4 separate regions of the Homo sapiens genome follow, and all the other regions are reported to be linked to region 2. Evidence: microRNA targets listed by miRTarBase, many of them from high-throughput screens and not tested one by one. Region 2 holds a microRNA gene; each other region holds the end of a gene's coding sequence.

Region 1 (3,098 bases), not on the chromosome of region 2:
TTGTTTCGTTTTGTTTTCATATATTTTCAATCTGTGGTTGTTTGCCAGGGATACAGAACCTGCAGTTGTGGAAGGCTGACTGGATTTGAAATTTTTCACTCTCACACACAAAACTGATAGAGCCAACAAAAGAACGTCTGTATTACATAAATGTAATGCTTCTACAGAGAGTCTTTAGACTTAAAAATGAGACCCCTCAAAAAAAGGAACTCCTAATATTAGGGCTCATCTTCACAGAGTTTGCTGCTGTTTGAAAATCCATTATTAAGTGAGATAATCCATTATCAATACTCTTCTGGAGCAAACTTGAGAAGTGTCAGAAAGAGAAATGGCCAAGTAGCCCTTTAGTGTTGTTCTCAATGTTTTGTTCTCTTTTTAATTCAACAGCGTATTCTCAGCTATGACACAGTGGTGCAAACAACTGGAGACTCGTGGCACATACCATATGATGAAGACTTGGTAGAAAGATGTTCCTGTGAAGTACCAACCAAATGGCTTTGCCTCCACCAAAAGACATAGAGATTCTTACCTCTATGCTAAGTTTGTGTTTGGGTACCCTCTAGGTTGGCATCAGAGGCTCTTGAGCTGGTGTTTGTTTAGGGCATTGCCTCTGTCCTGAAGATAAAAGGATTCTATTAACAGCATTGACATTGATTTTTTAATGAAATGAGATATATCTTTTCATAACCAGCTGCGTTTTTTTCCCCTAACATTTGTTTTTGGAGGCTTATCAAGAGTTGGAGAACTTAGTGTAGAGCAAAACCTGCATTTCTCCTACTGGGCCAGCTATTCCACTTAGCTTGGGTGACTAATAGTGCTTTTGGTATCCATTTTTTGCTACTTCTGACCTTGCCTTCCAGGCCTACCAATAGCAGAATCAATCCATCTGTCCCTGAGATACTCATGTTGTTTCAAATGCCTCCTCCCATTTCTGGCATAGTCTCATTCTCTGTATGTTATGCCCTATCCACATGGAATCATTTATCGTCCTCTGTAATAAACTGGCCAAGATACTAAAGGCTTACTATTCATAGCAGTTTTTAATTACTTATCATCCAATTATTTGGATTGGAGAAGAGGGGGCATTCACTCCTCTTTTTCTTATTTTTTTTGGAAATAGAGTCTCAACTTACTCTGTCGCCAGGGCTGGAGTGCAGTGACGTGATCACAGTTCACTGCAGCCTCAAACTCCCAGGCTCAAGCAATCTTCCTACCTCAGCCCTCCTGAGTAATTGGGACTACAGGCATGTATCACCAGGCTTGGCTAATTTTTTTTTTTTTTTTTGTAGAGATGGCTGTCTCACTCTGTTGACAAGACTAGTCTCCAACCCCTGGCCTCAGTCGATCCCCAGCAATTTGGGAGATTGAAGCGAGAGAATCACTTGAGTCTAGGAGTTCAAGACCAGCCTAGGCAACATAGTAAGATCTCATTTCTACAAAAAATTTAAAAATTAGCCAGGCATGGTAGTTTGCACACATAGTCCCAGCTACTTTGGGGGCTGAGGTAGGAGGATTGCTTGAGCCTCAGAGGTCAAGGCTGCAATGAGCCAACGTTGCACCACTGCACTCTAGCCTGGGTGACAGAGCGAGACCTTGTCTCAAAACAAAACAAAGTGCTGGAATTGCAGACTTGAGCCACAGTGCCCAGCCTCACTTCTCTAGACTATGATGGTTTTTTCTTCATTCTATAATCTCTTTTCCAAATTGGTTCAACATTTTGTGAACACTATTAATTTCATCATTCAGTATATGTGGGCTTTCTAAAATATGCCAATTTTTTTCCACTTAATCAAGTTTGACTTAATTTAACAAAGTGATTATATTTTAATAGTTACATTTCTGTTTTTTCCACTCACTAGCCAGCTTACAGTTTATTAGCCCTTGATTTCAGCTGAAAATATTCATGTCTGCACCCCTTCATGATAGTTCTTTCTTTACGTATACATACTGTATTCAATATGCAAGAACAGGCAAAAACTACTCTATTGTGATAAAAATCAGAATAGTAATTGCCTGAGGAAAGGGATATGAGAGAACTTGAGAGAACTTTCTCGGGGTGATGGAAAGTTTCTTATATTGATTTGGGTAATAGTAACATAGCTATATGTATATATTAGTTAAAATTCCTCACACTAAACATTTTAAATTGATATATTTACATTTATGACAATATACCTCAAAGTAAGTTAGGGTAAGAAAAGATAATTACTTACATGAAATAAACAATGACCTCTTTTATATCAAACCATATACATGTGTATAATTAGGGTATGTATTATGCACAGAGAAACAATTTAGGAAAATCCAAGGAGGGGACGTTTTATCTTCTTACCTATTTACTGAATGCAACATTACTGCACACCAAGACAAAAGAGCTCTCCAGGAAAACATTGGATATATTGAGAGCATTAAAAGATACTGCAAAAGCTCTAATAAATTCAGTCTGCTTATTTTCCAAATTTCATAAACTACATACTTAGGAAACTGTGCTTTCAGTGAGCTAAACTTCTTTTTTTAAGTAACTATCATAGTTTTAAGAAAAACATTTTAAGAAGACAAAAAGTATTTATTAAGCCCATCTAAAAGGCTAATGCAAATTCCCAAAAAAGGAGCACATAGAGATAGAGGAGGAGGCCGAAGTGGTGGCTCATACCTGTTAATTCCAGCACTTTGGGAGGCCAAGACAGGAGGATCACTTTAGGCCCAGAGTTGGAGACCAACCTGGGCAACATAGCAAGACCCTGTCTCTTAAAAAAAAAAAAAAAAGACGGGAGAAGCTACAAGAAGAAAACTAGAACTTTAGAGCAGGAGTAACCTTAGAGCATGTAAAGTCCATTTTGGAGATGAGGAACAGACCCAGGAAGATGACCTGGCTTCCCTGAATCCCACGGCTAGTTAGTGCAGACATTTCAGCCATAACCCAGCTCTTCTAATTCCCAAATACTCTTTCTTCTACTGGCACATAGAGATGGGGGAGGAGTCAGGGCATGGTGGCCCACACCTACAGTTCCAGCACTTTGGGAGGCCAAATGGGAGAATTGCTTGAAGCCAGGAGTTGGAGACCAGCCTAGGCAACACAGGGAGACCCGTGTCGACAA
Region 2 (3,098 bases):
TTTCTCTAATTCAATTTATTGCCTGAGAAGGCAGAGTATGGCATATACCTTCAAAGTTAATTGTTGAATTATTAACAAATAGCCATCTGCCCTTGCTAATCTAGTAAACATACTGAAGAATTTATTGAAAAGGCTTGTTGCTGTGATGTATACCATATGTGAAATACAAACAAATGTAAAATGAGAGCAAACTTATATCCCTTGACTGGAAAAGAAGACTGTTATTACATAAAAATGACAACTGCTATATCAAGACCAATTATACCAACCAGTTTATGGCTTACTCTAAAGCCGGATTTAAGGAGAAACAGTAACTACTAACATTCCATTTTAGACCTACGTAATACTCTAGCCAAGGAACAGTAATCTCATTTCTTGCTTAACCACACCACTGTCATTGTGGAAGCCTGGGCTTACTGTATCATGAAATTGAAATATGTGTACAACACACACTTTTGCACATTGGTAGACAGCAAAGATAAGGAGAAAGGCAGGACACGGAAAGATTTATTTGCCTTAGAGAAATGTGTTGGATTTTGATTCTGCAGATGACAGTCTGGTAAAGGGAAGAAATACTAGAAAGAAGAGAGAGGCAAGGGAGCATATCTCTGTATAATCACCATTTGCCATCACACACATGTGAATGCGCATACACACTAGGCTGTTAGCTAAATTTGTTTGTACATTGCATTCCTATGTGAAAAGATTGCTTGTGTTTTATCCCTTCTCTTTGGCAAAACCATCCTACCAAATATCTGTTCTTGTTCATACACGGTTAGGGTTAGATCTATTGGAATCACTGCTCTATTAATGAAGTAGATTTCTAAAGAAGTACCATTCAATTTTTTCCTCTCAAAAGTAAAGACTAAATTATTCAGAATTGGTTTCCATATTTTAACTGGTCAATCCAATTTTCCTTCAAGAATTGCATACTTTAAACATCTCATACTGCACTGACTGAGCTGGCCAGGTGTTTTGTATTTAAATATGTCCAATTCCATTGATAAAAGTAAATCTCTGTCTATAAAACATATATCCTGACTTATTCCTTTATTATTTGGTAACTTTATTATTCTTTCCTGGTTTTGGGCATATTTTGTTCCTTTTTTCCTAGGTTCTTGAGATAGGAGCTTATATTCTTGATTTGAGTGTTTTCCTCTTTTCTAATCTATCTATTTAGTGCTATAAATTTCCCTCTCAGAAAATAAACTACTTAAATACAGGTGTTCTGTATTTAAATATGTCCAATTCCACTGATAAAAGTAAATCTCTGTCTATAAAACATATAACCTGACTTATATAAGTTGCTCATGCAGTCCTGTTGTAAAAAAAAGAAAATTTAAATTACTCTTACTCATTGATAGAAAAAATCTTTACGTATAAATCAAGTTTTCTTCTGATATTGTCATTCAGGCATTTATTTAACAAATATGTATTAAATACTGAATATGTGTCATTAAGGCAAGGAGCTGAGAATTGACGGTGGACACAAACTCAGATGACTCCTTCCTTAGTACAGTTAGAGGAAAGAAGGGCAAACGAACACATCAAAGGAGCCTAAAGACTAATATGAATCTGCAAGTTTTATACAAACCACCAAGGGAAAATGCAATGTGCTAAAAGACCATGATAAAGGGATTTGACCTAATCAGGGAGGTCAAGGAGGGCTTCCCTGAGGAAGTGACACCAGCTGAAATCTAACAGACAAGTAGCATATATTTCAGGCAATGTTCCTGGGACAGGAATGAGCATAAGAATAACTGCAGGGAAACAGGAGCATGTGGTACATTAGACAGGAGCACGTTGTACCTTGGAAGGAAAGAGAATGATTAGGATCGAGCAAATGGCCAACACTTTCAAATGCTGAGGAGTCAAGCACAGTGAAGACTGAAAATGCCCATTGACTTTGGCAAGTAGAGATGACTGGGGATGTTAGGAAAAGCTGTAGCTATGGAATGATGGTGACAGCAATTGGAGAAGATTGCAGAGTAAATTCCATTTCTTAATCAGGAACTTACTCTGCAATCTTCTCCAATTGCTGTTGAAGCTGTTGAGTGTAGACAAGGCCTTAAAGAGAGAATGTTGTAGCTGTCAGGAGATAAGGGATTAGAGATTTTTGTTGTTGTTTGTTTTAATGAGGTAGTTTTATGAATTTGTTTGAAAATGTGGTAATTATCAGGAAAATAAGCAGATTTACATGCAGTTGTAAGAAGTAATACAGAGATATACCCTTTAACCAGTTTTCCCCAGGTGTAAAAACTGCAAAACTACAATATGTTATCACAATCAGAATATTGATACAGTCAAGATACAAACCAGTTCATCTCTACAAGGATCCTTCGTGATGCCCTTTATGGCCATATGTGGCCATTGCTGATTTATAGAGACACAATGAATATTTGTATGTTAATCTTGTATCCTGAGACTGGGTTGAACTCACTTATTAGTTATGGGATTTGTGTGTGTGTGTGTGTGTGTGTGTGTGTGTGTGTGTGTATTCTGTAATCATTTATGCAAATAATCATGCCATCTGCAAATAAAGACAATTTTATTTCTACCCTTCTGGTGTGTATGCCTTTTCTTCCTCTATATTTCTGTTTATATTTATTTATTTATTTTTTGAGAGGGAGTCTTGCTCTGTTGCCCAGGCTGGAGTGCAGTGTTGCGATCTTGGCTCACTGCAACTTCCACCTCCTGGGTTCAAGCGATTCTCTTGCCTCAGCCTCCCGAGTAGCTGGGACTATAGGTGCGCACCACCATGCCTGGCTAATTTTTGTATTTTTAGTAGAGATGGGGTTTCACCATATTGGTCAGGCTGACCTTGAACTCCTGACCTCATGATCTGCCCGCCTTGACCTCCCAAAGTGCTGGGATTACAGGCGTGAGCCACCGCGCCCAGCTTCCCTATACTTCTTTATTAAATGAGCTAGAACTTCCACAGATATGTTGAATAGAGGGTGAGAGTGGAAATACTTGCCTTGTTCCTGAACAACAGAGGAGAAACAATCAGGCTTTTATGATTAGGTATGATATTAGCAGCAGGTTTTTTCATAGGTGATCTTTTGTCAGGTTGAGGAAGTTCCTTTCAATTACTAGTT
Region 3 (3,098 bases), not on the chromosome of region 2:
CAAGACCATTCTCAGGATCAGCAAATAGAAGGAGATGAGGAGGATGAAGAGAAGATTGATGAACCTATTGAAGAAGAGGAGGATGAAGATGAGGAAGAAGAAGCAGAGGAAGTGGGGGAAGTAGAGGAAGTGGAAGAAGTAGAGGAAGTGAGAGAAGGAGGAATAGAGGGCGAGGGAAATATACAGGGAGTAGGGGAAGGAGGGGAAGTAGGGGTAGTGGGAGAAGTAGAGGGAGTGGGGGAAGTAGAGGAAGTAGAGGAATTAGAGGAAGAGACAGCAAAGGAAGAACCTGCTGACTTCCCTGTTGAGCAACCTGAAGAAAATTAAATATAAGGTATTAGATTTAAAAGGAGCTTTACATTTCGGTTCTAATGTAAAAAAGGGTAAGAAATTTAATAGCTTAAAATATGAATTAACACCCATGTTGCATGCATTCCACATATTAAAATTTGTTTTATATAATTTCTAAATGTTTAACATTTGTTTAATAAAATGAAGGCAAAACTATTTTAGTTTAGTTTTTATAGCTACCAGACTTAGATCCGATAAATTGTTTGTATAATTTTTAAGCTTAATTTTTATTACTTTATTGGTGTTAAGGATAACAAATGTGTATTGTTAGTATATCTATTCTAATCATTTTATCTTAAATGCTGCTCTTGGGAGTGAATATTCAAGTGTGCATCAATTTTTTGAATACTTACCCTGGAAGATATAAACTGGGCAAGTATTTTGTGCTCTGTGTATTTTTTTACTGCATTAGACATTGAATAGTAATTTGCGTTAAGATACGCTTAAAGGCTCTTTGTGACCATGTTTCCCTTTGTAGCAATAAAATGTTTTTTACGAAAACTTTCTCCCTGGATTAGCAGTTTAAATGAAACAGAGTTCATCAATGAAATGAGTATTTAAAATAAAAATTTGCCTTAATGTATCAGTTCAGCTCACAAGTATTTTAAGATGATTGAGAAGACTTGAATTAAAGAAAAAAAAATTCTCAATCATATTTTTAAAATATAAGACTAAAATTGTTTTTAAAACACATTTCAAATAGAAGTGAGTTTGAACTGACCTTATTTATACTCTTTTTAAGTTTGTTCCTTTTCCCTGTGCCTGTGTCAAATCTTCAAGTCTTGCTGAAAATACATTTGATACAAAGTTTTCTGTAGTTGTGTTAGTTCTTTTGTCATGTCTGTTTTTGGCTGAAGAACCAAGAAGCAGACTTTTCTTTTAAAAGAATTATTTCTCTTTCAAATATTTCTATCCTTTTTAAAAAATTCCTTTTTATGGCTTATATACCTACATATTTAAAAAGAGAACATGAGCTTGATAGAGGATCTATTCTTAAATAATTTATTTTCAAACAACCGTCTATGTCACTAAAAAGTAGTGCTCTTATTTTTTTCAATCTTTACTGTGGCCTCTTTTGAGAGTAGGGTCCGTAGTTTTTTTTTTTTTTCTTTTTTGGGACAGGGTTTCACTCTGTCACCCAGGCTGGAGTGCAGTGTAGCCTCAACCTCCTGGGCTCAAGCGATCCTCCAACTTAGCCTCCCAAGTAGCTGGGACTGTTAAGTGTGAGCCACCATGCCCAGCTAATTTTTGTAGTTTTTGTAGAGACAGGGTTTTACCATGTTGTCCAGGCTGGTTTTGAACTCCTGGGCTCAAGTGACCTGTCTGTCTTGGCCTCCCACAGTGCTGGGATTGCAGGTGTGAGCCACCATGCCTGGCATAGGGGGCTGTATTTCAGTGAAATTAGAAAAGTTTTGAGGCATCGAATGGATAAATGGATGGATATATCAAATTGTAAGGTATTAAGTGGGTGAATGTATGGACATTTGTAGAATCCCACAGATAATTTATCTTTTTGTGTAAAATAAGGCTTTTAAAACTAGACTTTCTGAACCAATACAGTTTTTTTTTTTTGAGGTGAACTAGGTTTGCCTAGCTTTAAGCTAGCAATATCTGATAGATACTTGCATCTAATTTTAGGGATTTGGTGCCAAATAAGAGAAGGGTAGTTGAAGACTAGATAAATTTGGATACTATCTAGGAGTCTGTATTTACTTAGCAGGCTTTTGAAAGCCGTTTTGCTTAGGAGTTCAAATTTTAAGGATAATAGGACTTGTTACCCTCTTATTTCTCCTTTATTTTTAAAAATATTTGTGGAAGGGCTAAGGTAAAAGAATAATAAATTCCTCTAGGTTATTAGTATTTGGTTCTTCTGATACTAAGCTGAGTGATTTTTTTTAAAACAATGTCTCTGGTAGTCTGATTGAGATATGAAACTTTTGGGAAGAAAACCATTATGTAACAAGAATCCTATGTAACAACTGGGTAAATGTTTTAGAATGAGAGATAGGAAAGAACATCTAAATAGTACTTTTTTGTGGGACGCATGAGCCTTTATACAGCCTAGCTAATTTGCAAGGTAATGATAAATAAAAGTGTATTTTGTTACTGTGCTTAATTCAGAAATTCAAATTCATGTATTTCCTATTGGATAATTTGTAGGCGGGCAGTTTACTTTATAGTCAGGTTAGTTTTTGTGATCCTTAGTGTTTATATTTGCATTGCTTTTGTAATAAGGATGTATATAAGATCTTAAACGCCTTTCAACTTCTGTTTTCAAGTATCACTTGTTTTCTCTATTACAAAGTGAGATACATAGTTCTAAATAACCAAAGAAATTTATTTATAACCTACACAGTTGTTTCAGCTCCATGCCTAGGGACTATCCTGTATTATTCGCTTTTTATCACTTTCTACCTACAGTCTACCAAAAAGTCTGTCTGTTCTACTTCCAAAATTTATCTGCCGACTCTTCTACCTCCACTGCAACCAACCCAGTTCAAGTCATGATAATTTCTTGTTAACTAATCTTGATTCCACCCTTACCATGATAGATTCAGTTTTCTACACAAGTATAAGCTTTTAAAAATGTAATTCAGATGATGTTAATCTCATGCTTTTTTTTTTTTTGTACCTATACAGTTAGAACTCCTTATCATGTTGATCAGACTGGCCTAGCTTTACAACTTTATATCATATACCATTCTTACCAGCCATAATGGCCTTTTGTTACTTTTTTGATGAGTTCT
Region 4 (3,098 bases), not on the chromosome of region 2:
TTTTATAACACTTAAAGCATGTATTTTAAAAATATATTTTTAGACGGCTTCATTCAGTAGATCCTCTTAGAAGGGGGCCTTGGGCTGAAAGAAAGTTGGTGTGACCTGGTCTACTGCTGACCTGCCTTCTAGCCCTGTGAGGTCTGACCCCCCCAGCCCGCCCCACCTACCTCACCTCTCTGTCCAAGAGAGGGACTTATAAATGCAAAGGATTATTCAACAATCTTAATAGCATAATTGGCAATTCTATAGTTAAGTTTTAAATGAGTGCTGAAATGTTTAGAAACTAATATGATTTAATTGCTGTATAAAAATTTTGCCTCCTGACTTCTTTCCTTTTGCCCCACAGCAACACCTTACGAGTTACCCGTTCTGCTGCCCCCAGCACACTGGACAGTTCCAGCACTGCCCCTGCTCAGCTGGGGAAGAAAGGCAAAGAGTTTGAATTCTCACAGTTGCCCCTCAAAGTGGAGTTCCTGGAGTGCAGTGCCAAGGGTGGAAGAGGGGACGTGGGCTCTGCTGACATCCAGGACTTGGAGAAATGGCTGGCTAAAATTGCCTGAGAGGCAGCTCTAAAGCACAAGACCTGGATGTGTGACACACAGTTTTGGAAAAAGGTCTGTGGTAGTCTGGAGTTGATGAGGAAGGGGTACAAGATGTGGTTAGAAACATTTCTTTGTTCTGGAAACAAAGTACTGTTGAAACCAGCTTGGAATTTTTTTTTTTTTTTTTTTTAAGTTCAGTTCTCCCTTATGGCTGCCTTTCAAACAAGTACCTTTTATCTGATGCCTGTATCTTCCCTTTGTTAAGGTGTAACTTGATGTAGGGTCAAGGTTTTTGTGACAACAGGCAGACTCCACACAGAGAGGATATGATGAGAATATGGCCATCACCTGAAAAGTTTTCTTATCTTCTGTGCTTTTGGTCCCTGGAAACAAATCCGCCTATGTATGAAGCTAGTTGATTTCCAGTTGCACTATTTCCAGTTGCCTCTGAAGTTCACAGGCAATACATTGTCTAGTCCTTTGCGAATTTCTCTGATTTGTGGGCACAGTTATGAAGTTTCCCCACATGTGAAGACAGGTACAAAATAGCAGAGCCAAGCAGACAGTGGGTCTATTCTTCATTAGCTCAGTGACTTGTCCACACTCGTCTTAGCACTTACGTTTCAAAAGCTTGTCACAAACCCTTGGAGTCATTCCCAGATAATAGAACTGGAAATGATAAATCCCCTAATGCCAAGGGTCTAGTGTGTTCTTAGTGGTTATACTGGGAAGTGTGTGGAGATTTAGGTGCTGCTCTGCTGCTCTGGATGGCTGAAGGCTCCTGGGCCATCTTCATGTGCTGCTTGAAGAGCTCCTATTTTGTACTCCTGGCTAGAATGCTGTGGAACAAATACAAAGTGAAAAAAGTTCTCTGTAGATTTCTGAAGTGCATATTCATTGATGCCAAGAAAAAAAAAAAGTTGCCTTTTTGAAGTGATGTTTTTTGCTGTCTTCTTAAACACAAGGCTTTTTTGAATGATTAGTATATTTCATGGTAAAGAAAACAGCCTGTCTGGCTCAAAGCAATTAAATAGAATGTAATGGTGAGTACAAATGAGTGCACATGTCAGGACTCAGGTCTAACTCCTTGTCTCCTGAGCCTAAAGATTGCAACATACACAAGAACACACTCCTATTCCTACCCCACACACTCAGGGACAAGCCCAACTAAAGCTTACAAGGAGACCAGGGTGGCTCTGTCCAGGGGAGAAGCCAGTTATGGAACAGTGCATTGAGAGCCATGGTAGGAGAGGCCCACAGTTCTCTGGAGCATGCAGCAGGGGCACCCCACCTGGCCTTGAGGATCAGGGGGAGTCAAAGGATAAAGCATGGGGCTGATGACGTCTGAGGGAGTGTGATCCTCCATGTATGGCCTCTGCCTGCTGTCTCACATGTCCCTTCTGGTGGTCACTTGGGCTCTAGGAGTATACGTCACCTCAGACCATCTGGCAGAAATACTCCAGGCTCCTACCCCAAAGCACATGTCAGCCTTGCTGCTGGAGCACGAAGACAATGTAAATGAAACATGAAATGGAGGAGTTGTGAGACCCTGACCCTGAGTCCTTACTTGAAAGCTGCTGCTGGTGTTCTGAGTGTCTTTTGGACTCTTATTTCTTGCCCTTTTCCTTATTAGGCAAGCAGTAACTTAGGAAGTAGGTAAGAGCAATAAATGTGACATGTTATGTCATCATAGTAGGAGCTCATGGGAATAAAAGTCAGTGGCTTGATGCTTCTGTTAGAGGCATGTGTCCCTCTCAGCCTCTTTTATTTTTTTCTGGTTAATATCTTACTTTATTGGAGGAAGCAGCACACCAGAAAAAGTGACTGAAGAAGGGCTGCAAGTTTGAGTTTGATTCAAGGCCTAAAGAAGGTCTTCCAAAAAAGGATAATTCTATCTGGAACACTGGTCTCAAATGTTAGTGGGCATCAGAATTACCTGCGATGCTTGTTAAACTGATTTGAGGACCCTACTCTCAGACAATTTGATTCAATAGCAAGTCTGGTATTGCCTCAGGAATCTGCATGCTTAATAAGTCTTTTGTCAGTCGCATGGCACCCCTAGAGATGATCTGGCCTGGAGTGTCACGTGTGCCTTTACTTTGTTTTTAAAGTCTCTTGGGGCACACACCCTGCTGAGTTTTTCTGACAGGGTCAAGTCAGCAGGCATGGGAACTCTGACCTTGCTTCTTACTCCTGTACTAGTAGCAGGCATTCCGTTCTTGTGGCTTTGGGCCAGGATGAGGTCATGGTGACTAGTCTTTGGGAACTGGGAAGGGTTTTGATGGGAGGTCAAATGTGCTCTCTCCACTCAGGTGGTGCCCTTTTGTGGCCCTGAGGGCATTTGACTAAAGTAGGCCCATTTCATGAGATGGGCAGGTGTGGCCAGAGTAGAAGGATGGATGTCAGGTCTTGGAGACGGGCCAACTAGGCACGACTGTATGACATAGATGAGACTTTTGAGCTTGAAACACCTTGGGAACATGGCAGTGTATGGACACCGAGACCTCCTAGGACAGCAGCTGCCTAATGCAAATGACCCTGTTCCCTGCTAAG

The links. Region 2 holds the annotated microRNA hsa-miR-4699-5p (AGAAGAUUGCAGAGUAAGUUCC, at 2,010-2,031, opposite strand). A microRNA usually pairs through its seed, bases 2 to 8, with sites in the 3' UTR of a target mRNA and lowers its output. Matches are read on the target gene's strand: a 7mer-m8 pairs with bases 2 to 8, a 7mer-A1 pairs with bases 2 to 7 and ends in A, and an 8mer does both.
Region 1: the mRNA of PRORP is a reported target of hsa-miR-4699-5p. Seed matches in the 3' UTR shown: 7mer-m8 at 1,204-1,210.
Region 3: miRTarBase lists ZNF326 as a target of hsa-miR-4699-5p. Seed matches in the 3' UTR shown: 8mer at 1,122-1,129.
Region 4: the mRNA of SRPRB is a reported target of hsa-miR-4699-5p. Seed matches in the 3' UTR shown: 7mer-A1 at 1,334-1,340.

Annotation. Positions count from the first base shown.
Region 1 is chr14:35,273,048-35,276,145 of GRCh38, forward strand. It overlaps PRORP (protein only RNase P catalytic subunit), which reads left to right. Exons shown (of 8, transcript NM_014672.4): 8 at 388-3,098. The coding sequence ends at 519. PRORP-PSMA6 (PRORP-PSMA6 readthrough) reads left to right here. Exons shown (of 15, transcript NR_182666.1): 8 at 388-1,244. Among named protein-coding and RNA genes, the nearest start is that of PSMA6, 18 kb to the right of the region's middle.
Region 2 is chr12:81,157,330-81,160,427 of GRCh38, reverse strand. MIR4699 (microRNA 4699) reads right to left here and starts at 2,040; the gene lies at 1,967-2,040. All of the region lies in intron 7 of ACSS3 (acyl-CoA synthetase short chain family member 3), which reads right to left.
Region 3 is chr1:90,027,375-90,030,472 of GRCh38, forward strand. ZNF326 (zinc finger protein 326) reads left to right here. Exons shown (of 12, transcript NM_182976.4): 12 at 1-3,098. The coding sequence ends at 327. Among named protein-coding and RNA genes, the nearest start is that of ZNF326, 34 kb to the left of the region's middle.
Region 4 is chr3:133,819,204-133,822,301 of GRCh38, forward strand. It overlaps SRPRB (SRP receptor subunit beta), which reads left to right. Exons shown (of 7, transcript NM_001379313.1): 7 at 350-2,289. The coding sequence ends at 563. Among named protein-coding and RNA genes, the nearest start is that of SRPRB, 15 kb to the left of the region's middle.